Homo sapiens: one gene and its partners. The protein of the gene in region 1 interacts with the protein of each later gene in a biochemical or structural test. Each region holds a gene or a part of one and is shown in the gene's direction. Other genes may lie near its edges. The genes, in order: PINK1, MAP3K7, FBXO7 and PGAM5.

Region 1 (7,222 bases):
TTCCACATGGCTGGGGAGGCCTCAGAATCATGGCGGGAGGCAAAAGGCACTTCTTACATGGTGGCGGCAAGAGAAAATGAGGAAGATACAAAAGTGGAAACCCCTGATAAAACTATCAGATCTCATAAGACTTATTCACTACCACAAGAATATTATGGGGGAAACCACCCCCATGATTAAAATTATCTCCCACTGGGTCCCTCCCACAACATGTGGGAATTATGGGAGTACAATTCAAGATGAGATTTGGGTGGGGACACAGAGCCAAAACATATCAATCATATATCCAATTTCACCTTTTTGGGATACCATTAAAGAGATGAGAGGCCAGGGGCAGTGGCTCATTCCTGTAACCCCAGAGATGTGGTGGGAGTATCACTTAATGCCAGGAGTTCGAGACCAGCCTGGGCAAATAGCAAGACCCCATCTCTACAAAATATTTTTTAAATTAGCTGGACATAGTGGTGTGAGCTGTAGTCCCAACTATTTGGGAAGCTGAGGGAGGAAGGTTGCTTGAGCCCAGGAATTCAAGACTGCAATGACCCATGATCATACCACTGCACTCTAGCCTGGGTGACAGAACAAGACCCTGTCTCATAAATAAATAAATAAATAAATAAATAAAAAGATGGGAGATGTTATGGGAGAATCTCAAGATGATTCCTTGAGACCTGAGACCCATGGCACCACCATAAAAAGAATTTTTCCTTCTCAGGAGGATAGACAGGGATGAATGGAGTCAGGACCATTGTCCCTGGGAAATGCATGCCTGTGCCCCTGGCACAGTAAGGCTGTATCTCTGACCTGAGAGGTGAGAATGCAGAACCCCTGAAATCCTTGCTGGAAACCTCTCTCTTCCAAAATCCACTTACTTGTCCATTCCATACAGATGTCTGCCAAAGAATCAAGCTTCATGCTGTGCTTGATTCAGACCTGTCAGACTTCAGATTTTTCTACAGATGGAGAAGTGAGTAAGTCCAGCCTACAATGGAAGGTTAATTAACATCAGTCTGGAGATTTCATTTCCAGCTGATGGATTACGTATCGCAGGTCCAGTGAGTTCATTTGCAGCTCAGGGGAACAAATGCAAAGGCTTAAGACAAACGTACTCTTTAACTCAAGACAACCAATACAATGTCTTATAAGCTGTGTGGTCATCATAAGCCTCATACTAAAAGGTTATGTTCCTGGGAGATTAAAGAAAATCTTTGTAGTTGAAACATTAAATATCTCAGAGAACCTCTTTTTCCTTCTCTATAAACATTAAAGAGAGGAGCTATAATGGTAATGTTGACCAAAAAAAAAAAAAGCCAAATTCTGTAAATTATTTAAAGAGGTTTATTCTGAGCCAGTATGAGTGATCATGGCTCAGAGTACAGTCTCAGGAGGTCCTGAGAAAGGATGCCCAAGGTGGCTGGGTTACAGCTTGGTTTTATACATTTTAGGGAGACAGAAGTGACAGGCAAAAATATAAATCAATACATGGAAGGCATATACATTGGTTCAGCCTGGAAAGGTGGAACATCTTGAAGCAGTGGATGCTCATAGGTTCTACGTGGAGTCAAAGATTTTCTGACTGGCAATTGGTTGAAAGAGTTAAGCTTTGTCTGAAGAATTGAACTCAGTAGAAAGAAACGCTTGAGTTAAGATAAGGGGGGTTGCAGAAGCCAAGGTTTTGTGCTGACTCAGCACACGAGGACGGTGTCAACTCCCTATGACTTCATCTCTGACCCAACCAATCAGCACTCCCCACTTTCTGACCCCCTACTCACCAAATTATCCATAAAAACCACCATCCTTGAGTTTTCAGGGAGATTGATTTGAGTAATAATAAAACTCTGGTTTCCCATACAGGTGGCTCTGTATGAATTAAACCCATTCTCTATTGCAATTCCCCTGTCTTGATAAATCAGCTCTGTCTAGGCAATGAACAAGGGGAACCCAATGGACAGCTATGATACCAGCGTCAGGCTGGAATTTGGTATCTTATTGTCAGTCTTATGTGCACTATTGAATATTAATGCTGGTCAGTCGTGGCTAAACTCCAAAAGGGAGGGGGTATAAGGAGGCGTGTCCAACCTCCCTTCCTTTCATGGCCTGAAATTTAGTTTTTTAGGTTTTCTTTGGCCCAGAGGGGGTCCATTTAGTCAGTTGGGGAGCTTAGAACCTCATTTTTAGTTTACAGTAATGAGACACAGCAGATGAGTAGATTGATTTTATTTTAAGACAGAGTCTCACTCTGTCACCCAGGCTGGAGTGGAGAGTGGAGTGGCACAATCACAGCCCACTGCAGCCCCAACCCCCTGGACTCAAGCAATCCTCCTGCCTCAGACTCCCAAGTAGCTGGGACCTCAGGCACTTGCCACCATGCCTCGCTGGGGTCTTTTAAATTATTATTATCTGTAGTGACAGGGTCTCCCTATGTTGCCCAGGCTGGTCTTGAACTCCTGGCCTCAAGCGATCCTCCCACCTCAGCCTCCCCACGTGCTGGAGTGAACCACTGCAAACCTGGCTTCAGACGAGTGGATTTAAACTTTAAATCCACTCATCTGTGCCCCAACTAAGTTTCCATGAGTGAGCCTGTGGTTACTGGAATGTGAGATTTCTCCAACTTTCTTTCCCTTATCATTCTTCAAATTACAACTTCAGTGGAGCATTTAAAATTATAATTAAAAATTCCCTGAGGTTGATCCAAAAAATTAAATATCTGATATTCATGTGCCTCTATACAAATGGGAAATTCATCTATGCCTCTCCCAAATAAATATGATTGGATATCACAAGAACCATAAAATTCCTCCCTTAAGGAAGATTATGAGAGAGACCAGCACACACACACACAGTGCAAGCTAAAGCAACCCCGTCTTGGATGCTAATCCACCAAGTTGATGTGTTTTGTTGGTTTTTTGGTTTTGTTTTGAGACAGAGTCTCACTCTGTCGCCCAGGATAGAGTGCAGTGGTGTGATCTTTGCTCACTACAACTTCCACCTCCTGGGTTCAAGCGATTCTCCTGCCTTAGCCACCTGAGTAGCTGGGATTACAGGCGTGTGCCACCACGCCCAGCTAGTTTTTGTATTTTTAGTAGAGATGGTGTTTTGTTGGCCAGGCTGGTCATGAACTTCCGGACTCAAGTGATCCACCTGCCTCAGTCTCCCAAAATGCTGGGATTACAGGCTGTGAGCTACCACACCCGGCCAACCAAGTTGACTTCTGATTAACCAGCTTTTAGGGAAGGCCTCTAAGATTTCCAGTTTATCTATTGTTCCTTGTGTAAAAGTATGTACTTACCATAAATCCTGCCCTTAGGCAGATTCACACAGCATTCTTGCCTTTCCCTGGGGGACTGACTTCAAATGTCCGTCACATTCCTTTCCTATAGCATATAGGCCCTGGGTCTTGGGGGTAATGGCATGGGGATCCACCATCTTGTCTCCCTGCCGCTGAAGCCAGAGACTATGGCTTCTGTTCATAAATCCCTTTCTCCTTAAATATGAAGTCAAAGGTCATGTAGATAGGAGCTGCTGCTGAAGAAGGGATTTTTTGTCTGAAGAGTTCTGTCCCCTGGGCTTACTTGGCTATGGGGTGGACCCCTGGCCAGGAGACAGCAAACTGTTTCAGTAATGTGCGTGTCGTGCGTGTGTGTGTTCTGTGGTGAGCAGGCCTATGCCATTAAACAAACGGTGTGGCTTTGGGCAAGCTGCTATCTTGGGACCTCAGCACACTCATTCATAAATTGTGTCTTTTGGGTGAGATTTGTCTTGGGGTCTTCAAAACCCCTGAGACTGTGGACACATACAGCAGCCTAACGGCATTGAGGAGGGCAAGCATTCAACAGTTAGGACAATGTGAACTGTAGCTCAGCTCTGCTAGGTACCTTCACAAGACCTCGAATGCTGCCCCTTACTATGCCTCGGTTTTCTTATCTATAAAAACGGCATTTTTATCTTGTTGGTGGAGCTGTTAAATAAATTAAAAGACGTAAAGGGTCTGGCACCATGGTTGGCAAAAAATATCAGTTTCCCTTCTCGACTTCTCGATTTTGCCCAGGACCAGTGATGTTCACATTCAGGACCTGCCTGAACCGGCAAGCCCTCCACGTGGGTCCAAAGTGCAAAGGGAAAGTCACTGCTAGAGGCGCCAGTACCAGCATAGCGCCCCCACGCGCCGAGTCGGGGAACTGCCGCGGGGGCCGGCCCCGCCCACCAGCGCCTGCGCCTGCGCAGAGGCACCGCCCCAAGTTTGTTGTGACCGGCGGGGGACGCCGGTGGTGGCGGCAGCGGCGGCTGCGGGGGCACCGGGCCGCGGCGCCACCATGGCGGTGCGACAGGCGCTGGGCCGCGGCCTGCAGCTGGGTCGAGCGCTGCTGCTGCGCTTCACGGGCAAGCCCGGCCGGGCCTACGGCTTGGGGCGGCCGGGCCCGGCGGCGGGCTGTGTCCGCGGGGAGCGTCCAGGCTGGGCCGCAGGACCGGGCGCGGAGCCTCGCAGGGTCGGGCTCGGGCTCCCTAACCGTCTCCGCTTCTTCCGCCAGTCGGTGGCCGGGCTGGCGGCGCGGTTGCAGCGGCAGTTCGTGGTGCGGGCCTGGGGCTGCGCGGGCCCTTGCGGCCGGGCAGTCTTTCTGGCCTTCGGGCTAGGGCTGGGCCTCATCGAGGAAAAACAGGCGGAGAGCCGGCGGGCGGTCTCGGCCTGTCAGGAGATCCAGGTGAGCGGGGCCGGGTCCTAAGCCGAGCGGAGGACGGAGCTAAGCGCGGGGGCGGGTCCTCAGCTGGGTGGGGGCGGGGCTAGGTGTGGAGGCGGGGCTCTGAGCAGATCGAGGGCCGAGGCGAGGGTCCTTAAAGCTCATCTATTTCACCATTACTGATCGGCTGCTATAAATAAAGCCAGCACCTCCCATTTGTTTTAATGTTTCCCTTCCTCAAATGAAGACATGTTGCCGATTACAGCTCCTGTCGCAGCACAGCAAAAGGCTTTGTGTAAATTTTCTAAAATGTACGGACAACTAAATCATAACATTCCTATCCCTTTGAGGTAGTTGCCGTCCCTAATTTATGGAGAAGGAAAGTCCTCAGGTGAAGGGACTTGCTCGAAGTCACACAGCTAATAAAATGCAGTGCCCTTAACCACTGAGCCAGGCTGCCTCCGCCGTTTAACCAAAGGATTAGTAGTGACAGAGCTGAAACCGCAGTAAAAACTATGAACGGCGAGAAAAACAGTCCTAACATTTTAGTTACCTGTGTAGAGTTATCCCTGCTGACTGGATACACAAGGGTTCTTAGGGTTTTTTAATGCTTAAAATAGCACAAGACTTCTCTTTTTGCCCAACCAAAGTCTGTATTAGGGTTCTCCAAATGGAATCAATAGGATGTGTCTATATAGAGGCAGGTTTATTTTGAGGACCTGGCTCCCTATGGGGATTGGCAAAGTCTTAAAAGCCGCAGAGTAGGCGGGCAGGCTGGAGAGCCAGGGAGGAGCCAGCGGTGCAGTTCAGGTTTGAAGCCTGGCCGCTGGCAGAATTCCATCTTCTTCCAGGGAGGTCACTCTTCTTCCTGGGGGTGTAGAACCACTCACTAAATTAGCATAGCCCCTGCATTTTACAGGTTAGGGCTGAGGTGGTGGAAGAGGGAGTGACTTGCCCAAGGACACAGCTGTTAGGGCCAAGCAGTGGCTCCTGGGTTTCCTGGTTTCCATCCCAGTTCTTATTGCTCATCACCACTGTCTCATGTTTGAGCTCTGGCCAGTTTGGGGTGACAGGTGACATCTGGCCTAGTCCCCAGCCCCTGACCTTGTCTTTTGCCACAGCTTAACTGGCAGAAGCTAAGGATGGGAAATTTGACTAATCCTGCTTAAAACTAAAGAGGCTTTTTTAACTGAGGAGATTGATCCTCCTAAACTTACCATTCACACACACCTTCTTCGCACACTTCACCCTCCTATGCCTGAAAATGTTATTAGTTATCAATTAATTTCACATTAAAAAAATTTTTTTTGGTCAGGCACTGTGGCTCATGCCTGTAATCCCAGCACTTTGGGAGGCTGAGGCGGGCGGATCACGAGGTCAGGAGTTTGAGACCAGCCTGGCCAACATGGTGGAACCCTGTCTCTACTAAAAATACAAAAATTACCCGGGCGCAGTGGTGGGCGCCTGTAATCCCAGCTACTTGGGAGACTGAGGCAGGAGAATTCCTTGAACCCGGGAGGCGGAGGTTGCAGTGAGCTGAGATCACGCCACTGCACTCCAGCCTGGGTGACAGAGCAAGACTCTGACTGGGGGGAGAAAAAGTTGTTTTCACTGGCTACTTTTGCTGGAATTAATTTCACATTTAAAAAATTCTGGGCCGGGCGGGGTGGCTCATGCCTGTAATCTCAGCACTTTGGGAGGCCAAGGCGGGCGGATCATGAGGTCAGGAGATCGAGACCATCCTGGCTAACATGGTGAAACCCCGCCTCTACTAAAAATACAAAAAAATTAGCCAGGCATGGTGGCAGGCGCCTGTAGTCCCAGCTACTCGGGAGGCTGAGGCAGGAGAATGGCGTGAACCCGGGAGGCAGGGCTTGCAGTGAGCCAAGATCGCGCCACTGCACTCCAGCCTAGAGGACAGAGTGAGACTCCGTCTCAAAAAAAATAAAAAATAAAAAAATAAAAAATTCTGAAGCCAGGCATGGTGACTCATGCCTATAATCCTGGTGCTTTGGGAGGCCAAGGTGAGAGAATCTCTTGAGCCCAGGAGTTGAAGACCAGCTGGGACAACATAGTGAGACCTTGTTCCCACAAAATATTAAAAAGTTAGCTAGGCATGGTGGCACATGCCGATAGTCCCAGCTACTTAGGAGGCTGAGGTGGGTGGATTGCTTGAGCCCAGGAGTTTGAGGCTGCAGTGAGCTGTAGTTGCAACACTGCACCCCATCCTGGGCAACTAGCAGGAGTGTGCTAGTAGCAAGCTCTAAAAATTTATATTATAAAAATATATATATAATGTGTATATATATGTATATGTGTATATATGTTGTGTATACTATAATATGTATGTTCCATATAATAGTATATAGTATATTTTATATATATACACACACACGTTGCTTCTGCTCCATGAAGTTTATAAGGGAAGTTGGATTTTCCTTTTTTTTTTTTGATACGGAGTCTCACACCGTCGCCCAGGCTGTGCAATGGCACGATCTCAGCTCACTGCAACCTCCACCTCCCAGATTCACGCAATTCTTCTGCCT
Region 2 (7,034 bases), on another chromosome or scaffold:
CGTTTTTCCGTCTTGTTTCAGCTCTCATGCTGTAAGCAGGTGTCCTTTTTTGTGCTGTTCAGAGCCCTTTTTCATTTTTGTGATTTTTGTTGGTAATTTTGCTACTTAAAATGGCCCTCAAGCATAGTACTGCCTAAGTACAAGAAGGCTATGATGTATCTTAACAGACAATATACATATGTTAAATTATCTTCATTCAGGCATGAGTTACAGAAATGTTGACTATGAGTTCAATGGTAATAAATCAACAGTATATATGAATAAGGTGTCTTTAAGCAGAAATACGCATGAAACAAGGCTATATATTGATCAGTTGACAAAAACATGGTGACCAGAGGCACACAGGAACCTACCCCTGTATTTTCCTTAGGAGCAGTGATTCAGTGTTCACTAATTCAGTGTTCTCAGAAACTTTATAGAACATAAATACCAGGAATAATGAGAATTAACTGTGCTTTTGTATTGGTTTCCTAGCAATTAAAAATTGAGAGCCCTAAAGTTTAAATGAGGATGCCTTAAAAAGAATGCAAATAGCTGGGCGCGGTGGCTCAGGCCTGTAATCTCAGCACTTTGGGAGGCTGAGGTGGGCGGATCATGAGGTCAGGAGATCGAGACCATCCTGTATAACACGGTGAAACCCCATCTCTACTAAAACTACAAAAAATTCGCCGGGCGTGGTGGCGGGCGCCCGTAGTCCCAGCTACTCGGGAGGCTGAGGCAGGAGAATGGTGTGAACCCGGGAGGCGGAGCATGCAGTGAGCCGAGATCGTGCCACTGCACTCCAGCCTGGGTGACAGAGCAAGACTCCATCTCAAAAAAAAAAAAGAATGCAAGTAATTGGACAGAAATAAGATACTAAGAATTACAAATAAATGTCAAGCTTATATGTTTACCTTCTTTTATACCTCCATATGTCACTGAAGTTTTAAAAGAGTTGTCTGTAAATTATATGCTAGGTTTCTGTATAAAAACATCAAATTATCTTTTAAATGAAAGAAGTTGAACTGAAGGTATGTGATTTGTATGTTAGGAAGTGTAAATGCCCATAAAATTCAGATACATTCAGTTAATCAGACTCTGGTTATAGCTTATTTCTTTCAGTTTTGATGACTTTAAAGGGTTTTCTGTTTGTTTTTAGCCACCCCAGAGGAAGAGAAATTGCAATGCAACTAGTCACCTGAGTGGAGCTCTTTTGCCCTAAAATTCAATTTAGTAATAAATGAATAATCAGGTGTTATATTACACAAGATTAAATAATGCCTCCTGTTTCATATACAGAATGTATACATTTGACATTGTTTTAAAATTATTTACTTATTTAATATACCTTTATGTGAGTTAAAATGACCCAATGTTACTGTATGTGGAGAGCAAAAAGATTTGTTTATACAAAAGATTAATTTTATTGCTCTAGACAACCCTTAATTGTCTAGAGCAACAAAATGCAGACTGTTAGGCTGTGTAAGTTTCTTCATTTCTGAAAGATGTCAGTCAACCTGTAGCCCAAATTAGACTGTAGCATGGTTGTAGTGCTATATTACAGTGTACTGCTTAGCATGTAAAGCTATAGCTATAATAATTGTTCATTCTTACAGTGAGTTGAGTGTTTGTTTGTTTTTGGGAGATTATGACGGGTGCTTATTGTGCTGGCTGATTCAACCACCTACTTAGTTTGTAAATTTTGCTGTGTAACTCAGGTTATCCATAATTTTCGTTACTTACAACGTAATGTTTAAGTTTATAAATTAAGAATTTCCCTTCACCATATATTGAGGAAAAAACTGTAACACTAAATTAGAAAGTTCTTCTGCTTTGATAGCAGAGTAGTGCTGTCTGTCAGAGTGGGAAGAAAATTTAAGATTAAAATGTAACAGAAAGGAGGCCAGGCACAATGGCTCATGCCTGTGATCCCAGCGCCTCGGGAGGCCAGAGCAGGAGGATCAGTTGAGCCCAGGAGTTTGAGACCAGCCTGGGCAACATGGCAAGACCCCATCTCTACAAAAAATTTAAAAAATTAACCAGTTGTGCCAGCGCATGCCTGTAGCCCCAGCTACTCAGGAGGATCACTTGAGCCCAAGAGTTTGAGGCTACACTGAGCTCCAGCCTGGATGAGAGTGTGAGATCCTGTCTCAGAATAAAATAATAATAAACAACATAAAGGAATGTACAGATGTTTCATACTCTGCCCCAGAGAAAGTATCAGTCTAAATACATAAAAGTCAAGTCCTGTGCCTCTTGATGAAAAAACTGCCTCTTGATGAAAAAAGATAGAAAATAACTGAGTTTCTGAAGTAGTTTTTTAGTGTATTGTTGATACTTAATTCATTTAAAAATGTACTTGTTGAAAAGACAAAGTACTTCAGAAAGAGTAGTTTCTTAGTTCTACATGTGACAGCCTCATTTTTATCCCTGATACCCATTCTCAAAATTTAAGCCATTGTTTCTGTAAGTCATGTGGAAAAATAGTCTTTAGGTTATATACTACCTTTTTTTTTTCTAGGTAGTAATTACAGTGAAAAATGTGACGTCTTCAGCTGGGGTATTATTCTTTGGGAAGTGATAACGCGTCGGAAACCCTTTGATGAGATTGGTGGCCCAGCTTTCCGAATCATGTGGGCTGTTCATAATGGTTCGTAAAAAGAAATTTTTCTTAAAAGTACTTTTTGTGTTTTCTACTTGGAAGACTACTCCTGTCCCCTTCCCTAAAGAATATCATTTATCTCTAACATTAAAATGTACAATTCTTTGTTAAGAGACTGCTTTGCTATTATCAGACTCTGCCCTGTCCCTGCCCCAGAGTCCAGCAGAGCAGGATTGAGAGTAGTCCTGGTCTACACATGCGGCTGAGGATGTTCACTGGCTCCGCTGATTAGGGAAAGGCCATCAGTACGCAACCTAGACAGTTGGCTCTCTCTTAGGGAGAAGCATCAGGCTGGATCATGGAAAAAATAAAAAAATACATACATAAAATCTCTGACATGGTTAATATAACTGGAGAGTTATAGCCCTTTTCTCCTGAAGAAGCAAGGGCCTCATCAAGGAGAAGAAGCAAAGAATAATAATGCTTCACATATTTTTCCTGTTTATATTCTCACCCACCCTTAGAAGGTGAGTACTGTTGCCTCATTTTACAGATTAGGAAACTGAGGCCTAGAGAGGTTAAATAACTTGCTTAAGGTCACAAGATTAGTAAGTGGTAGAGCTGGGATTCAAATCCAGATGCTTCTGACTTGAATGCTCATATCTTAAGTCATATTGACTTATGGACTCAATGTCCTTGCATCTGTCCTGTTTCTTTTATAGTTCTGGTAATGTTGTTTTTAACCACATATGATGTTAGAATGCATCCTCTTCATTAGTAAAGTTACTTTACATTTGCTTGGGAAAATAGCTTTTCATGAAGGAAAATTACTTACCTTCTTAATTTTAGCGCCACTCTTAGTTATTTCATTTCTATGCCTTGTTTATAATCATGTGACTAATGGCCATTTTTTACATTATTCCACAAGTCTAAAAACAAATGTCTGCCTAATTATTTAGGTCATTCATAGATTTATCAAACAGTACCATCATCTGAGTAATCTTAGCTGTTTTTACCAGTTTCCTATACTGCCTTTAATATTACTACCATTAGTATCATTGTGGAGACTGTTCAGCATTGACCAGGACAGCTTGCTTGCTTGCTTTCTATCAGTTGTCAGTAAATAATTGAACGTCCGTGAAGTAAAGAGTAAAAGAACTAACTTGTTAATTGATAAAATTACAAAGCACTTTTATTACTCCAAATTACAGATCTTAAACTACAAGATCTATAAAATAAATACCACTTTGGAAATACGTACAAAGAGTTTGCATCATTCTTTGGGTAAATACATTCTTCCCCCCTTCCTCTCATTTTCAATTGTAGGTACTCGACCACCACTGATAAAAAATTTACCTAAGCCCATTGAGAGCCTGATGACTCGTTGTTGGTCTAAAGATCCTTCCCAGCGCCCTTCAATGGAGGAAATTGTGAAAATAATGACTCACTTGATGCGGGTATAATCCTTCTTTTGAGGGGCTTTGGATTTAGGGGAATTTAATATGTGCTGAGTTTTAATGGAATTTTAAAAGGGATGTTATTACTATATTCTGCTTTATATATTGCTATGTTTTCTAAGTGAGAATGGGCATTTATTACTCATAGTCAGAAGAGGAAACATTTCGAGAGGGAAAATCTAGTTCTTTATCACTGGAAAGATGGCTAGACTAGGTTTCTAGACTTGCTTTTTTCTTTTTGCTTACATTAGTGGACAAGTATGTTTGTCTCTGGGCCTGTTGCCTCATTTGTAATGTGGGAGAAACTGAAATAGATAGTCTCTAAAGCCATCACAGGACTTGGATATATTAATATTATGACTTCAATACATGATAAACTAAATTTTACATTTTTCTGATACCAATTTTCATCAAGCATTTAGTCATTTATGCAAGGCAATAGGTTGCATTCTCAGACACATTTATTTGAGTGACTTTTACTATTTGGCCTATTTTCAGGTTTTTATATCCCAGTAAAAAGTTAAACTTTCTTCTATTTAGAAGAACCCTTTTAAATGATTATCAAATTTTCCTAGTCTGTGAATCAAGCGCCTTTAGAATTATTTGGAATATTTTACGCCTCTGGTTTTTGGTACATTAACAAAAACTGTGAAGTGGTATCTTGGCTTTAAAAAGTTCAAATATCTATGAAAGTGCCTGAATTTTGAAACAGTTTGTTCAGTAGAAGAATCTTACAATCTCCTTAAATATAGACTAAGTAATTTCCTAAATGGTAAAACGTTGTTTATTCAATCTATTGAAAATTTCTTACGCAAAGCAGCTTGAACTAATCTACTAAAAGTTTACCATCGTATTTGGATACCAGTCATATATAGAAGCCTAGGCCTTAAAGGTGTGTGCATAAGAAAACAACTTAGTCTCTGTAGTCAGATTACTTAAAACTTTAGGATATATAAGTTATTGCAGTTGTAATTTTGCTTCTCTGTTCCTTGTCTAATTTGAGGAGAATACGTTTCCTTTTTTTCTCTAAATTCTAACATTTTTGTCCAGCAGATACTTTGAGTATTATGCCTCCAGTTTGTAGAAAGACATTCATAATCTATCCTCTTAATATTTAAAATGTTCTAACAATTATTCTATGGTATACTAGTCTCAGTCTTCAGACTAACAGTCACTGGAAGTTTACATCACTACTGTAAGAACATGAGTATGTTTTACATAATTATGAGAAATGATACTATTTTATTTCATATGTTTCTCTAGAGAAATATTTGCTGTTTTCTTCAAGACTATCTAGACTCCAATGTAAGCTAGATTCTTAGGTAGGTGCATGGCATTGATCAAAGTTGAAATCCAAGAGTACATTATTGTAATCTTTGTAAAATAAAAAACTTAGGCACCTACAAATTTAGTATATAACTTAGGGAAAATAAAACATTAATCAGGATTTAATTTGTATTAAGGAAATTTTAAGCTGTGGTTTACTTTTTTATATATAGTACTTTCCAGGAGCAGATGAGCCATTACAGTATCCTTGTCAGTATTCAGATGAAGGACAGAGCAACTCTGCCACCAGTACAGGTAAATGGATAGATTGGAAGAGTATTGACTTGATTTTTCTTTCATCTCTATTCCCATGAAATTATAATCAAGAAGTAATGAATAATGTCCCCATTTGCATTTTAATTCCTTCATTTCATATGATTGACTGCAATTTGAGTTTACAGGTGCGTCATTCTTCATGTAGGTACCCTGATTAAAGAGTTATTGAAGACCTGCTTCCAAGTCTTAGAATTCCTACATAATTATGAATAAAAAGATGGCATATTGTATTACAGTGAATGTCATTCTTAACTTGAAAAATCACTTTTACATGCATACTACTAGATCAAGTAGTATTAGAAATTATTGTAAATGTATTTAAACATTTCTTCATCACGAACACCCTAGTTTTTGTTCTCTTCTACAGAGGCTCTGATTTAAGAAGCTATGTTAAAAGTTCCTTAGTTTTCCGAAATGTGAAGTAGTAGTGGGACATGTAATTTGTGGTCATCAAAAAGATAGTAGAAATAATACTGTAACTTAGAAATATTGTACTTCTCAAAATATAGTGGCATTATAAGCATTTCATTATTAATTGAAACTTAAAGATATGTGTGTGTCTATATGCACATGTATTTACCCTGCATTTATTGAAAAATACTTTTACTGATCTATTTCTCCCACCTCAAGAATAGTTTTATTTATTTTAAGATGGTTACTGCTTGGCTAGTTATTCTCAAATTCCAGTTTTACTGAAAATATTTTGAGTTGCTCTGAATTCTAAAATGTACTTCTCTAAAATTCTATCATTTGTGTCTCCCACGTCCTCTAAACTCTCTCTTCATTTCCTTACTGTGACCTTGAATTTTTTGAGCCTCCCACCTTTTCACTGGTCCTCAGTCCTCTTAGGTCCTTTTTTCTTTCTCCCTCCACTTAATTCCAATCAACTATTATAATTCTTTTGGGAATAATTTTCATCTTTCTAGCCTCTCTCTCAAGCTTGCTTGGCTAAACCACAAGCCTAATGAAAGCTGACACTCGGCTTACTCCTTGCCTGTACCAATGCAGCTGAGTGTGGCTGGAGATAGCACAGGTTTACTATCCTCACGTGCATGTTTAGTGCTATTGGACAGTTGTACTGTATTGTAGTTCATCTCTTTCCTCCTATATGTCTTAATTTTATACTGTAGCCTCTCCTCAGACTTCAAACACCTCCTCGCCACTCCTCACTCTCAGCTGATCTTGTTTGCTCTTTCTCTGAGAAAATTGGAGTAATCGGAAGACAGCTTCCACAACATCTGTGCCCATCTACTCTGCTTTCTTCTGTTACTCTGGCTAAACTATCCATACTTCTGGCCAAAGGTGTACCTTTCTGCCTGTGCATTATATCCCATCTGCTCCTCTGAGCAATTCTCCCCTGTCTCTTGCATCATCAGTTTTAGCTTTCTACTGGA
Region 3 (7,034 bases), on another chromosome or scaffold:
TCAATCCCTGTTTCCATGATGCAGTTTTACCTATTTGAACAAAAATTTTGATTAAAAGTGTTCTAATATATTATCTTATACAATATGGTTATCCTACAATATAAAATATATTGGCAATGTTAATGATTTGATGCATTTTATTAAGAGGACTGTGTGGAGTGATTATTTCAAACAAGTTAGGAGTCTTTTGGATTTTTAATCTTTTTGAGAGTAACACCTTTCTTCATTATTTGTTTCCCTTTCATTTCGTTCCCCAGGGCACCGAAGCCAAAGCACTGTCCATGCCGGAGAAGTGGAAGTTGAGCGGGGTGTATAAGCTGCAGTACATGCATCCTCTCTGCGAGGGCAGCTCCGCTACTCTCACCTGTGTGCCTTTGGGAAACCTGATTGTTGTAAATGGTAATTGGATAGCATAGTCATGGTTGCTGGTTTATGGATTCTTAGACGTTTCTTTCCAAATGTTTTATAGCCACTTCAGTGATTGGCTATCATGATACAGTTGTGAGTCCTTCTCAACTGTATTTAATTCCTAGGCCACTGATAACATGTGTCTGGAAGATCATGGAATATGAGGTTGTTGAGTTGTTTAGGCCAGCACCCTTCATTCTTAGGGCATCCATTTTTTTGATGTCTTAATCTTTGTAATATTTTGCTCTGGGGGATAATATTTAATATTATCCAATATTATCAGTATTTGATAATAGGAGTGAAATGAGCCTATTACACATGAACTCCTTGGAGAATACTTTTTCTTTATGCCTGTGGATGGCTTTATTTTTTTAACGAAGGTCTTGAACTGAGACATGGGGAGCTAGACCTGGGGTCACCATTTATCCAAGTTGGCATCCCTGTGACCAGCAATGCACAACAACAATGCTAAGTTTACTGGGGCCTTAGTAAGTATGTGTTTTATTTGCTGGGCCTCCCCCAACAAATGTCACTCTGTATGAATAACTTTTCCTGTTTATTTTTCATATTAAGAAATTTCACTGGAATAGCAATGCATTCCATCTCTGTGTTTTAGTTCAGGTACCACTTTGTTTCATATCAACTCCTAGTGTTCTGTCATAATCACACATACTGGAGATCCATTTGAATGACTAGGAGCTTTCATTTTTGTTCTGTTTTGTTTTTTGAGATTTATCCTTTTAGTTAGAAAGATAGCGTGGTAAGATTGGGAGGGCTGCGTTTGTTGTTTTTTTATTCAGTATAGCTCATCTTTTTCGTTTAGCAAAGGCAGTTGCTTTGGTAAGCCTTAGGTCAAAGGTTTAGGTCAGAGGTTTTCAGTATGTTCTGTAGCTACTCCTTTCTGCTGAGATGAAAGTTAGGTAGAAGCCCTATCACCACTTAAACCTTGAGCAGCAAAATGTTTATCTGTTTCATTTATTGAAGTTCTGTGTAAGATTCTGTTTGAAAAAATGTTGGTTTTTTTTTTTCCTGCTAAAATCTATTTTGAAAGCTACTGACTCATGCCATCTTGATCTTTGACATGTTGGATAGTTCTCATTCCCCTCTTACAAAGTTTCTTTTTTCTTTTTTTTGAGACAGGGTCTTGCTCTGTCGCCCAGGCTGGAGTGCAGTAGGCAGAGCATGGATCATTGCATCCTTGACCTCCTAGGCTCAAGCAGTCTTCCTCCTTGGCCTCCTGAGTAGCTAGGACCACAGGCGTGTACCACCACACCTGGCTATTTTTTATTTTATTTTTTGTAGAGATGAAGTGTCACTGTGTTGCCCAGGCTGGTCTCAAACTCCTGGGTTTGAAGCAATATTCCTGCCTTGACTTCCCAAAGTGCTGGGATTACAGGTGTGAACCATGCCTGGCCTCTTACGAAATTTCTATTTCTTTAGTCATAAGATTCTTTGAAATGTTATTTAAAAGTCTCAAAACTAGGTTTAATAGCTTTGGTGGTACTTCACATTTGTCAGGACATGACTGTCTGATGACACTAGGACCTAGCAATGTCTATTCAGCAGTTCATCATAATTAGCAAATGTAGCTTTTACTTTGGCATTCTTGTACACAGAGTGTCAACAGTTTCTGCCTTCATCTAATCATTCTGCTACATCACATCATAACTTGCAAGGTTGGAGTTACCAAATAGTAAATGTGTAGTTGCAAATTTTGCCTTGATTTTTTATAAAAGCACTTAATGACGTGTATAATAACCTCTATTCACTAGATTCAGGATACTTAATATAAAAAGAATAACTGCTGAATGTCTTGATGATTTCCTAATTTCTGATGTTTTGTTTCTTTACTGTTCTTGGCAAATCAGCTCTTGGCAGACTTGCATGGCAGCCAGCCGTTCCAGGATTGATTCTTTGAAAAGGAGCAGTGTGTCTTTAAATCTTTCCTTCACCCAAGGCATCCTGCTTGGTGCACATGTGCATAAGCACATCACTGGGCTCTTTCATGGAATGAGATGAAGTGCGCCTTTGTATACATGATTAAAATTGAACCCTCTGGTGATGTCAAGTATATTTATCCTTTGGGTCTGGAAGAGAGATGATGCTGTGAAAACTAGCAAGATTATTTTAATGAACAAAGGAAGACTCATTGCCAAGGGTTAAATAAAAAATAAATGGAGTTTTTAGTGACTTCATTAGAAATAATGATTTTATTGTGTTTAGTTGCCTCTGATTAACCTTGTTGCATATCTTTAAGTTACTAATAAGCTGCTGCCTAGTGGATTTTATATAAAGATGCTTACTGTAGTTTTTAAAGGTGGTGTTGTAGAGTGATTTTACTTCATGTGATGCCAGGTTTACACTTTTGAACTTGCTATCAGAGAAAGAAATAGGCGAAGAACAGTTTGTTTTGTATAATGTGTCCTTAGTATATTAGGAGCTAGGAAATGCAAGCCCATACTAAAAAAGAAAGGCAGTTGATGAAGTGACAGAATTCTTTATCATCTTTCTTTTGTTTATTTACAGCTACACTAAAAATCAACAATGAGATTAGAAGTGTGAAAAGATTGCAGCTGCTACCAGAATCTTTTATTTGCAAAGAGAAACTAGGTAATACAAACATTATTTAACTTTTGGGGTGAAACTCTGTGAAATTCATATAAGAAAAAAATCTGAAAGATAATGTTCAAAAGACTGAAAATTTCTATATGAGATTAAAGCATATTGAAGACAATGTGGTTTGTTTAAGAATGCAAAGGTTTAAAAAATGTGAAAGTTTTGCTTATAATTTGAGGAGTTTGTTTCTTTCCTGTTTTTCTTAGGGTCATAGTGTGCTGAATTATATTGTTATGAGATAACACTAGTATGTAATTTATTACACTCTGATGATAGTTCATAGTTTCTGTACTAATCTTTGGAGATCTCCCTATTGAGATCTCCATATTGGTATTTAACCAATATGGAGGGGATCTGTGTTTCATGAAAGTAATTCAATGTCAAGTTCATTATTGAAGATTATTGGAGGAAAAACTACAATCAAAATGTTTGTTTAAACCTATATAAATTTGATGGCTATTTTATACAGATTGATACTTTACCAAAGGTTTGCATTCTAGGTAAGGTTTTGCTTAAACTCTATAAAATTATTAATAGATACAAAGAAGACAGGTTTTCCCTTTTATCATTTTTCAGTTAAACCAAACTGTGAGAGGCAGTTATAGGTGGTTGGAGCAGAAGAGATAAGGTGGAGAGGGGAACTGACATTTTTTAAGTGCCTGTTTCATTCTGTACTTGTGCCTGTACATATGTTATTCCATTTAATCTTCTTAGTAAACTTAGGAGGGTTTTAAGAGCCTAGTGGGAATGTTGTGGTACAATGGGAAGATGGCATTTATAGCAGTCCTTTAGGAAAGGCTGGCTAGATTGACATTGTTGCTTTGAAGGCCTAAAGGCTTATTCTTGTTCATTCCTAGGGGAGATCAGCCCTGAGAGATTGACTTATACTAACTAAAACTGACAGGAAAAGGAGATAGCAGAATACATATTTATAACGGTCTCTGATTGGATGTAGAGTCAGAAATTGGGAATTAGCTGAATTGAATTTTTTTTTTGAGACGGAGTCTTGCTCTTTCGCCAGGCTGGAGTGCCGTGGCGCTATCTCGGCTCACTTCAACTTCCACCTCCTGGGTTCAAGCAATTCTTCTGCCTCAGCCTCCTGAGTAGATGGACTACAGGCGCACACCACCACGCCCAGCCAATTTTTTTTTATTTTTAGTAGAGACAGGGTATCACCATATTGGCCAGGCTGGTCTCGAACTCCTGACCTTGTGATCTGCCCGCCTCGGCCTCCCAAAGTGCTGGGATTACAGGCATGAGCCACTGCGCCCGACCGAGTTGAACATTTAATGTCAGACTAGGCCAGAGTTTCTCAATCTTTTTATTCTCACTTCCCAAAGGAGCCGTTGGAGATTTTCCCCTCAATCTCTCTCCTTCATGAAATTTCATACCACAAATATAGTATGTTTTATTTATGTACTGTGACCCTTTGAAGGATCACAAACCAATATAATAGTTTTTCTTTTTAACCCGTCAAGGACCAGTTTTTGCCCCTGTTGGAAATGCATAAACTGGACTGATGAATTGGTATAGATGGCTTTTATCATGAGGATCAGAAAAACTTGAAATTCCTTGGCTACGACACTCCATATTTATCACCGTATAGGGAGGACCTTGTTATGGGGAGTAGAAACACTCTACACTTTACAGCAGTAGAGGTTTTATGCCCATTTTATAGATCAGGAAACAGATCTAGAGGAGGCTCACTTACTTAAGGGTCACAGAGCCAATAAATGGTGAAATACAGGATAGGAATAGATTTGGCTGACTCCCAGCCTTTTAAAACAACTTTTACAGGAATGTAGCTCAGATTGTTATTCTTTATCTGGTTTCTCTTAAATAAAGAAAAATGAAATGGAAGGGAGGAGGAACATTAAATACTGTTAAATTACAAGTTTATGGACTGTTATAATGAAGTATTTTTAATAAAGTCTTATGTTGAGTAGGAATATGCTGCTCATTTGGCAAGTCATTTTAATGAATTTTTACTGTGGTTCATAGCACCTAGTAACTATAACTAGGCACTGTTATTTATCCTTTTATTTATAAGTTCCTAATTAAATAGTTACATACCAGGTTGCTGAAGGAAAACATTCATTTAAAGAAAATCAATTTTCACATTTGAAAAAAGCCCTTGAGCCAAATTGATTTTAAAGAATGATATCTTGACAGCAAATTTCAACTCAAGATTGCAAGTCACACAACAAAGATTTAGACATTAGCTGCATATCTCTTTCCTTCTTCTTATCGATCCTGTTATACTGAGTGTTTTATTTGTTATAGATAGTGAAATACATAAATATGAAATGGGGAAGGAGCAAGCATAAATTGCCTACTGATACCCTAGGCACTGCTCGTGGAGCTTTCAATTATAACAACGCTTATCTGGTGTAGTGGTGGTGTCTCCTTTAAACAGTTGAGCAAAAAGGTGAGGATCAGAGGGGCAGGTTATTTGTCCAAGGCTATACACTTGGTAAATAGCAAAACAAGTGGGAACCTCGGCTGCAGTTTGCTAGTGCGTCCGTACTTTACTATGAGTCACCTGGGGATCTTATTAAAATATAGGTTCTGATTTGGTAGGTCTGTGGGGGCCTGAGATTCAGTAGTTCTAAACAGTTCCAGGTATTGTCAGTTCTGGTGATCTGTCGCCCACATGTTGAGTAGCAGTGTGGTGACTAAAAATGAGTGCTTTTGAGCCACACGGACTTGGGTTTGTGCACTGTTCTGCCACTAACCATGGGGCCTTGGACAGGCTTTCTGTACCTTGACCTGTTTTTAAAATGGAGATAGTAATTAGGAAAGAACTTCTGATGTGAAAGCTTGAAAAACGCTTGACACAGGTGCTGATACATAGTCATCATGCGATAAATGCTATTAATTTACCAGGTTCTAAGCGTTAACAGGAGCAGTTCTCCACTGTATCCTTAGTGCCCAGAACAGATTGATAGCTATCAGGAAATCTTCGTATGTATGAATCTCTCACAAGTCTTTTCTACAACTGCAGCCTATGAGCTAGAGAGGTTGGGCACAGCTCTACTAATTTGATATCATGGAATTTTTAGCTTTTATATCTAAGATTCAGTTTCATCAAGTCTTGCACTGTACTTCTTCCATGAGGGAATTTGGTTCATGCTTATCTTTGTGAATTATTTGTGAATATTTATTCACCATGTTGATTGGGTTTGGCAGAAATAGAGGACAGTTTTTTCACTTGATTTTGGGTTTTGATTTTACTTTAAAAAATATTCTAGGGGAAAATGTAGCCAACATATACAAAGATCTTCAGAAACTCTCTCGCCTCTTTAAAGACCAGCTGGTGTATCCTCTTCTGGCTTTTACCCGACAAGGTAAGAGATGAAATACTGTCACAATTTAAATGACTGTAAAGAATAGTAAGTATACTTAATATTCTTGGTGAGTATGACATCTGACTGCCCTCTTTTCTGCTCCTGGCGAAATGTTCCTCTTCTAAGACTAAGCTTAATATTCCTTAAGTGCTATTTACTTTATCTTTGTATCTCCATGCCATTTTGTACATATTTTTATTGTAGTCTCTTTTCCATGGACTATAATTGTTGATATGATTTCTTTCCACCTAAGGTTGGGAATACCTTGAAGGTAGGGAATATATCTTACTTTTGTATTCTTGTGGTCTAGCATGAGGTCAGGTACATAATAGATGCTCTTTCTCTCTGTGTAGATACATATATATATGTCTATATAGACATATATTTAGATATATATGTCTATATAGACATATATTTAGATATATATGTCTATATAGACATATATAAATAATACATGGTCTGTAATTGGATCTAAGTTTTTTTTTTTAAACCATTTATTGGAGGCTCTTTGCAGGCACTTAGTTGGATATTTCACATGCATTCTTATTTACTGCTAATGACTTCGAAGTAAATTATGTGGTACTTATTTTATAGATGATGAAATCATAATTCAATAAGGTTTATAATTCACTCGAGATCCTTATATTAGCTTCTCATTTTTTT
Region 4 (7,183 bases), on another chromosome or scaffold:
AAATCACTTGAACTGGGAAGGCAGAGGTTGCAGTGAGCCAAGATCGTGCCACTGCACCCCAGCCTGGGCAACAGAGTGAGACTCTGTCTCAAAAAAATAAATAAATAAAATAAAAAATAAAAATAGGGCTGGGTGCAGCGGCTCACGCCTGTAATCCTAGCACTTTTTGAGGCCGAGGCAGGCGGATTACTTGAGGTCAGGAGTTTGAAACCAGCCTGGCCAACATGATGAAACCCCCTCTCTACTAAGAAATAATAAAATAAAAATTAAAAACTTAAAAGGCTGAACATTGCCGTGTGCGTGGACTGCATTTTGCCTGTCCGTCTGTCCGTCAGTGGCTAGACTGTTTCCAGCTCCTGGATGCCGTGAAGGATGTGGCGGTGAAGACAGCGGCACTAATGCCTGCTCAAGTCCTGCTTGCCTTGGGTTTTCAAAGAACTGCTCTTTCAGTTCAGAATATTTAAGGTGGGGTCGTTCCCAAAGGAAGTTTAGGGCATTTGCAAAAGTAACAGATGCTCCTGCAATTGATGCAGAAGGTGACAATTCTGACTATCCCTCTAACTTGCCACTTCCCAGTGAGTCCCACCCCCTGCCATGATGGAGGATTAAGAACCTGGATCTCAGAACAGATTCTAGATTAGAATCCAGAGATGACAGTACTGACACCGCTTAGGGCTGCTTTGTGCCGGAACTCTTCTGAGAGCTGCAGCAGCCCTGAGGGAGGTGCCATTGTTTTCTCTACTCCACATGTGGGGGATGCAAGATGCCTCAGCTAGCAAGAGACAGTCCTGATTCAGAGGCAGTCAGCCAGGTCTTGAGCCACCATCTTCACCACCTCATCATAGGGCATCAGAGTGTCACGGCAAGGTCAAGAGAATTTGCTGGAGAAGATTTCACATCATGTATATGGCTTACCACAGCCCGCATCCGGTCAGTTCGCTGAACACACCTTTACGGAGTGCTGTCAGGCACACAGGGGAGAGCAGAGACCAGGAGTTTTTAGTTTCACACACTTAACAGTCATCAGAAAACAGGCTTTTTTTTTTTTTTTTTTTTTGAGACAGAGTCTCACTCTGTTGCCCAGGCTGGAGTGCGGTGGCATGATCTCAGCTCACTGCAGCCTCCCGTTTCCAAGTGATTCTCCTGGCTCAGCCTCCTGAGTAGCTGGGATTACCAGCGCGTGCCACTATGCCCTGCTAATTTTTTGTATTTTTAGTAGAGATGGGGTTTCACCATGTTGGCCAGGCTGGTCTCGAACTCCTGACCTCAAGTGATCCATCCGCCTGTCTCGGCCTCTCAAAGTGCTGGGATTATCGAGCATGAGCCACTGCGCCCGGCGTAAAAAATACATTAAAAAAAAATATTTTCTCCTGGGCTGGTCAGTTTCCACACAGAGGAATCCTTTAGTTCTTGTCAGGGCATTGGGGGAAGGATGGTGGTGGTAGCTGAGCAGGGAATGAGCCTAGTGGCCAACATTCTTGTGGCTATCTGGAGGAAAGGGGTTAGAGGTCCTACTCTTCCTTATGTGAACTCTGTATAATCCCATCTTTATTACTGCATCCCCAATCTGAGCTATGCTTGGTGTCCTGAAATCCAGAACCCTCCTGTTCAAGTCCCCTGGAATGGCCTTTCTCTAGTGCTCCACGGTGATGAAAGTGAGCTATTCCCCTGAACATGTGGGGGAGAAACGAAATGTGGAAGGCAACCTTTTCCTCTAAATGCTCCTGCTTTCAGCCCCACAGCTCTCAGACAGGAGGCTAATGCTGCCAACTCCCAGACTCTTCCAGACTCACTGGATTAAATGAACTTGCTTCCTGGTTTCCTTCCACATAGGCACTGGTGTTCCATATTCTCAGGTCGATAAAGATCTGATCTCCAGCTCTTGAACTTTTGTTAACTGATTTATCTGCTGTCATTTCTTCTTATGGATTCAACTATGTCCTTGTGGATTTTCCCTTGTTTTTTATTTTATTTTTTGAGATGGAGTCTTGCTCTGTCACCCAGGCTGGAGTGCAGTAGTGTGATCTCAGCTCACTGCAGCTTCTGCCTCCTGGATTCCAGCGATTCTCCTGCCTCAGCCTCCTGGGTAGCTGGGATTACAGGTATGTACCAGCTAATTTTTGTATTTTTAGTAGAGATGGGGTTTCACCATGTTGGCCAGGCTGGTCTCAAACTCCTGATCTCAGGTGATCTGCCCGCCTCGGCCTCCCAAAGTGCTGGGATTACAGGCATGAGCCACTGAGCCTGGCTGATTTTCTTTTTTTTGAGACAGAGTCTCTGTCACCCAGGCTGGAGTGCAGTGGCACCATCCTGGCTCACTGCAACCTCTGCCTCCCAGGTTCAAGCGATTATCCGGCCTTAGGCTCTCGAGTAGCAGGGACTACAGGCGCGCACCACCACGCCAGGCTTTTTTGTATTTCAGTAAAGACGGGGTTTCACCATGTTGGTCAGGCTGGTCTTGATCTCCTAACCTCGTGATCCGCCCACCTCAGCCTCCCAAAGTGCTGGGATTACAGGCGTGAGGCACTGCGCCCGGCCCAATTTTCCTTTATTTTTTTGAGACAGAGTCTCGCTCTGTCGCCCAGTCTGGAGTGCAGTGGCGCGATCTCGGCTCACTGCAAGCTCCGCCTCCCGGGTTCACGGCATTCTCCTGCCTCAGCCTCCCTAGTAGCTGGGACTACAAGCACCCGCCACCATGCCCTATTTTTTTTTTTTTTTTTTGTATTATTAGTAGAGACGGGTTTTCACCGTGTTAGCCAGGATGGTCTCGAGCTCCTGACCTCGTGATCCGCTCACCTAGGCCTCCCAAAGTGCTGGGATTACAGGCGTGAGCCACCACGCCCGGCCTTCCTTTTATTTTTATTTTTTAAATCTTCCTATCATTTTTAGTAAATGACCTGGAAGCAGCAGACCCAACTGGAAGCGTACAGGTTCAAGAAAGCCTGTTTAAGCAGAAGTCTCAGTATTTCTGTGGAACCATTCAGTTTTTTTATTTTTATTTTTTTGAGACATTGTTTCACTCTGTTGCCCAGGCTGGAGTGCAGTGAGGCAATCTCAGCTCACTGCAACCTCCGCTTCCTGGGTTCAAGCAACTCTCCTGCCTCAGCCTCCTGAGTAGCTGGTATTACAGGCTGGAGCCACCGTGCCCGGCTAATTTTTGTATTTTTAGTAGAGACCGGGTTTCACCATGTTGGCCAGGCTGGTCTCAAACTTCTGACCTCAGGTGATCCGCCTGTCTCGGCTTCCCAAAGTGTTGTGATTACACGCGTGAGCCACCGAGCCCAGGCCCAAGTGATTTTTAAATAGCTTAAATCAGATCATGTCATTTCCCAATTTTAAAATGGGCAGAGATGGTCCAGCAATCCCACTTCTGGGTACAGACGCAAAACAATCAATGAAAGAGAGATCTGCACGCAGCACTGTTCACGCTAGCGAGGAGATGGCAACAGGGCAAGCGTCCAGCAATGGGTAAGCGGTGGGGTCGGTGCACGCAGGCGTCCAGCAATGGGTAAGCGGTGGGGTCGGTCCACCCAGGGAGCGCTGGTCCCCCTGGAAGGAAACCCAGGCTCTAACGCGGTCCCTCTGAGGACCCTGCTAGGCGAAACGCGCCGGCCATAGAAAGACTGTCCCGCAGGAGAGGGCGGTGTTCGGCCCGGGGTTTGAGGGGTCGGGACCAGGAGGAGGGACAGCCCGGCCGAACCTGAACGCACTTCAGGCCGCTTGAACAGCACACGCAGGAACTGCGCCGACGGAAAACTTTACTTCGTGTTCCGCCACCAAAAAAATATCGTTTAAACAAACCTGCGGCAGCTTCCCAGCTCCCTTAAACCAGGATCCCAAGTTCTCCGCGTCTCCGCCCCTGCACCCAGCCTCCGGCCTCGGCAGGCGCTTCCGGTGCGGAACCTTCTGGAAAGTACCGCGCCGCCCTCCCGGCGTCCCCACAACCCCGCCCGCACCTGCGCGCACCGGCGCTCGCGAGCACAAGTGACGGGACTGGAGCGTGGCGCGGCAGGTGGCTCCACGAAAACGCCCCTTCGCGCAAGGCTGCCCCGCGTCCTGCCGCGCCCCAGGAGGCGGGACTTCCGCCCCCGCCGCCCGGAAGCGGCAGCCGGGGGAAGCGTGTTCCTCGCGGAGCGCCGTCGGGGCCGTGGGCGCCTGCGCGGGCCGGCGCGGGAGCAAGCGGCATGGCGTTCCGGCAGGCGCTGCAGCTGGCGGCCTGCGGGCTGGCCGGGGGCTCGGCCGCCGTGCTCTTCTCGGCCGTGGCGGTAGGGAAGCCGCGCGCAGGCGGGGACGCGGAGCCACGCCCGGCTGAGCCGCCGGCCTGGGCGGGGGGCGCGCGGCCGGGCCCCGGTGTCTGGGACCCCAACTGGGACAGGTGCGCGCGGGGCTGTTTGGGGCCGGGGTCGGGATGGGGGTCAGGGCAGGTGTTACCGTTGGGATCGAGATCGGGACCAGGTTTAAGGTTGCGATCGGGTCGGGATCTGGGGTCGCCGTCTGCTTTCCCCAGCGGAGGAGCCGCTTTCCGGGGCCGCTCTGCGCGGAGGGTTCCGGGGGCGGCTGACCCTTCCCGCCGGCTTCTGTGGCCGAGCTCCGTCGCGTCCTCGCCCTTCTCCCCGCCCCTGCGAGTCCGCCCTGGGTGCCATCGCCGGAGCGCGGGCCGGGGCGAGGCTGAGGTGGAAGCCGGGCCTCCTTCAGGGGCGTTTGCAGGAGCGCGCCCGCGAGCTGCGTGCGGTTATTGAGCGTTTGAAATATGGCTCGTGTGATTCCTGAAGGGAATGCTTAGTTTACGTCAATTTAAACTTAACGCAAGCAGGGCCGGGTGCGGTAGCTCAGGCCTGTAATCCCAGCGTTTGGGAGGCTGAGGCCGGAGGATCGCTTGAGAAATTTGAAACCAGCCTGGGCAACATAGTGAGACCCCCATCTCTACAAAAAATACAAAAAAAATTGGCCGAGCGAGGTGGCGCGCGCCTGTGGTCCCAGCTACTCGGGAGGCTGAGGTAGGAGGATCCCTTGAGTCCAGGGGTCCCAGGCTGCACAGTGTGAGCCGAGATCCCGCCACTTCACTCCAGCCTGAGCAACAGAGCCTGTCTCAAAGGAAAAAAAAAAAAAGTAGTGCAGGTTTTTAACATTAGTTATGTGTTGAAATAGTATTTTTAGCATATTGAATTAAAAGTATGATCGAAATTCACCTGTTTCTTTTTAATGTTGCTATTAGAAAATGTATAATTTCACATGTTGCTGGCATTCTGTTTCTGTCGGCCAGGACTGCTCTAGCGGCAAGGATGGTTTTCCCAGTCCTAACTCCTCATTATACTCAGTACTTTGAGAAAGGGGGCACAGAATTATACTACTGTGGTTGCGTTAGGTACTTTATATTAGATTTTTATCTTTTGTTAACCTTATTTCCTCTATTATTAGCATCATACACTAAGCATGGTGTATATATCAAAATTAATGAGCCAAAATAATATAGATTAATTATAGTTATTATATTAGTTTATAATACATTACTGTTAACTAAGGTTCATGTTTCATTGAGATTTCCTCAGCTTTTACCTGCTGTTCTGTTCTAGGGTCCCACATGACAAGTAGTCTTCATGCCTCCGTAGGCATGTTTTGGCTGTGACAATTTCTCAGACTTGTTTTGATGATCATGAGTGTTTGAGGCGTCCTGGTCAGGGGTTTGGTAGAAGGTCCCTCAATTGAGACTTCTCTGAAGGTTTTCTCATGATTAGACTGGAGTTACATTCTTTTTCCTTCTTTTCTTTTTTCTTTTTCCTTGAGACGGAGTTTCGCTCTTGTTGCCCAGGCTGGAGTGCAATGGTGCAATCTCGGCTCACTGCAACCTCCGCCTCCCGGGTTCAAGCAATTCTCCTGCCTCAGCCTCCCGAGTAGCTGGGATTACAGGCACGCGCCATTATGCCCAGCTAATTTTGTATTTTTAGTAGAGACGGGGTTTCTCCATGTCGGTCAGGCTGGTCTTGAACTCCCAACCTTAGGTGATCCTCCCACCTCGGCCTCCCAAAGTGCTGGGATTACAGGCATGAGCCACCATGCCCAGCCTGTTATATTCTTTTTTAAAAATCAGAATTCTGAAAAATCAGAAATTCTGAATCAATATTCTGAATTTCTTAGGTCTTTTTAAGGAAACAGATTTACTCTGCCGTTAAAGAACTTGAAGTAGGCTGGGTGCGGTGGCTCACACCTGTAATCCCAGCATTTTGAGAGGCTGAGGTGGGCGGATCACTTGAGGTCAGGAGTTCGAGACCAGCCTGACCAACACGGTGACACTCTGTATTTACTAAAAATACAAAAAAATTAGCCAGGCATGGTGGCATGCACCTGTAGTCCTAGCTACTTGGGAGGCTGAGGCAGGACAATCACTTGAGCCCAGGAGGTGGAGGCTGCAGTGAGCCCAGATCGTGCCACTGCACTCCAGCCTGGGTGATAGAGTGAAACTCTGTCTCAAAAAAGAAAAAAAAGAACTTGAAGTAGAACCGGGAGCTGAGCCCAGCCTTTCTCTTTTAAGCAGGTGTTCTGTATTTGCTTGTCATGTCTGGGGAGAAGTGAATTGGGCCTTGTGGGTTGGGAAAGACTTATACAGACAGAAGGCATGAGCAACTACAGGAAGGTGCTAGAAGACAGCATGTTTCTTCTTGAGTCTCACCTGTCCACACTTGAAAGTTCCAGAGCCTCATCTGGTGAAATCTCCAGCTTCTTCCTGGAGGTCTCATGCAGTTTACGGCTTCCTGTCTCTGTGCCTATAGCTCCCAAATATTTTCTCTGGCTCAGCCTGACTCCCCCATACCTGCCAATTTGAGTCTTGGCCTGGTTTATGACAGGCCCCCAGGTCGGCGTGGCCCAAACGGAGCCCTTGAGTCACCACCGTGCCCTTCCACAGCTTCCTTTTCCGCCACTGTCTCAGCGAGTAAATACCAGCAGGTTCGACTTTTGCTATTCCCAGCTCTGCCGCGTTGAACTTTTTTTGTTGCTGTTGAGACAGGGTCTCGCTCTGTTGCCCAGGCTGGAGTGCAGTGCAGTGCAGTGGCAAGATCATGGCTCCCTCCTAGGCTCAAGCAATTCTCCCACCTCAGCCTCCTGAGTAGCCGGGACTACAGCTGTGGACCACCTTGCCCGGCTAATTTTTTAATGTTTTTGTAGAGACGGGGTCCCCCTGTGTTGC

What was found.
Region 2: of the proteins of PINK1 (region 1) and MAP3K7, one has a biochemical effect on the other in vitro, tested with the Homo sapiens proteins (one study listed by BioGRID).
Region 3: the proteins of PINK1 (region 1) and FBXO7 form a complex in vitro, tested with the Homo sapiens proteins (2 studies listed by BioGRID, with this or other methods).
Region 4: of the proteins of PINK1 (region 1) and PGAM5, one has a biochemical effect on the other in vitro, tested with the Homo sapiens proteins (one study listed by BioGRID).

The regions. Positions count from the first base shown.
Region 1 is NC_000001.11:20,629,236-20,636,457, forward strand, and holds the start of PINK1 (serine/threonine-protein kinase PINK1, mitochondrial precursor), read left to right. Parts: upstream 1-4,222; 5' UTR 4,223-4,313; coding exon 4,314-4,700; intron 4,701-7,222. UniProt on the Homo sapiens protein: Serine/threonine-protein kinase which acts as a sensor of mitochondrial damage and protects against mitochondrial dysfunction during cellular stress.
Region 2 is NC_000006.12:90,549,053-90,556,086, reverse strand, and holds part of MAP3K7 (mitogen-activated protein kinase kinase kinase 7), read left to right. Parts: intron 1-2,500; coding exon 2,501-2,629; intron 2,630-3,907; coding exon 3,908-4,038; intron 4,039-5,537; coding exon 5,538-5,619; intron 5,620-7,034. UniProt on the Homo sapiens protein: Serine/threonine kinase which acts as an essential component of the MAP kinase signal transduction pathway. Plays an important role in the cascades of cellular responses evoked by changes in the environment.
Region 3 is NC_000022.11:32,484,811-32,491,844, forward strand, and holds part of FBXO7 (F-box only protein 7), read left to right. Parts: intron 1-257; coding exon 258-399; intron 400-2,934; coding exon 2,935-3,018; intron 3,019-6,275; coding exon 6,276-6,371; intron 6,372-7,034. UniProt on the Homo sapiens protein: Substrate recognition component of a SCF (SKP1-CUL1-F-box protein) E3 ubiquitin-protein ligase complex which mediates the ubiquitination and subsequent proteasomal degradation of target proteins and plays a role in several biological processes such as cell cycle, cell proliferation, or maintenance of chromosome stability.
Region 4 is NC_000012.12:132,706,693-132,713,875, forward strand, and holds the start of PGAM5 (serine/threonine-protein phosphatase PGAM5, mitochondrial), read left to right. Parts: upstream 1-4,149; 5' UTR 4,150-4,184; coding exon 4,185-4,375; intron 4,376-7,183. UniProt on the Homo sapiens protein: Mitochondrial serine/threonine phosphatase that dephosphorylates various substrates and thus plays a role in different biological processes including cellular senescence or mitophagy. Modulates cellular senescence by regulating mitochondrial dynamics.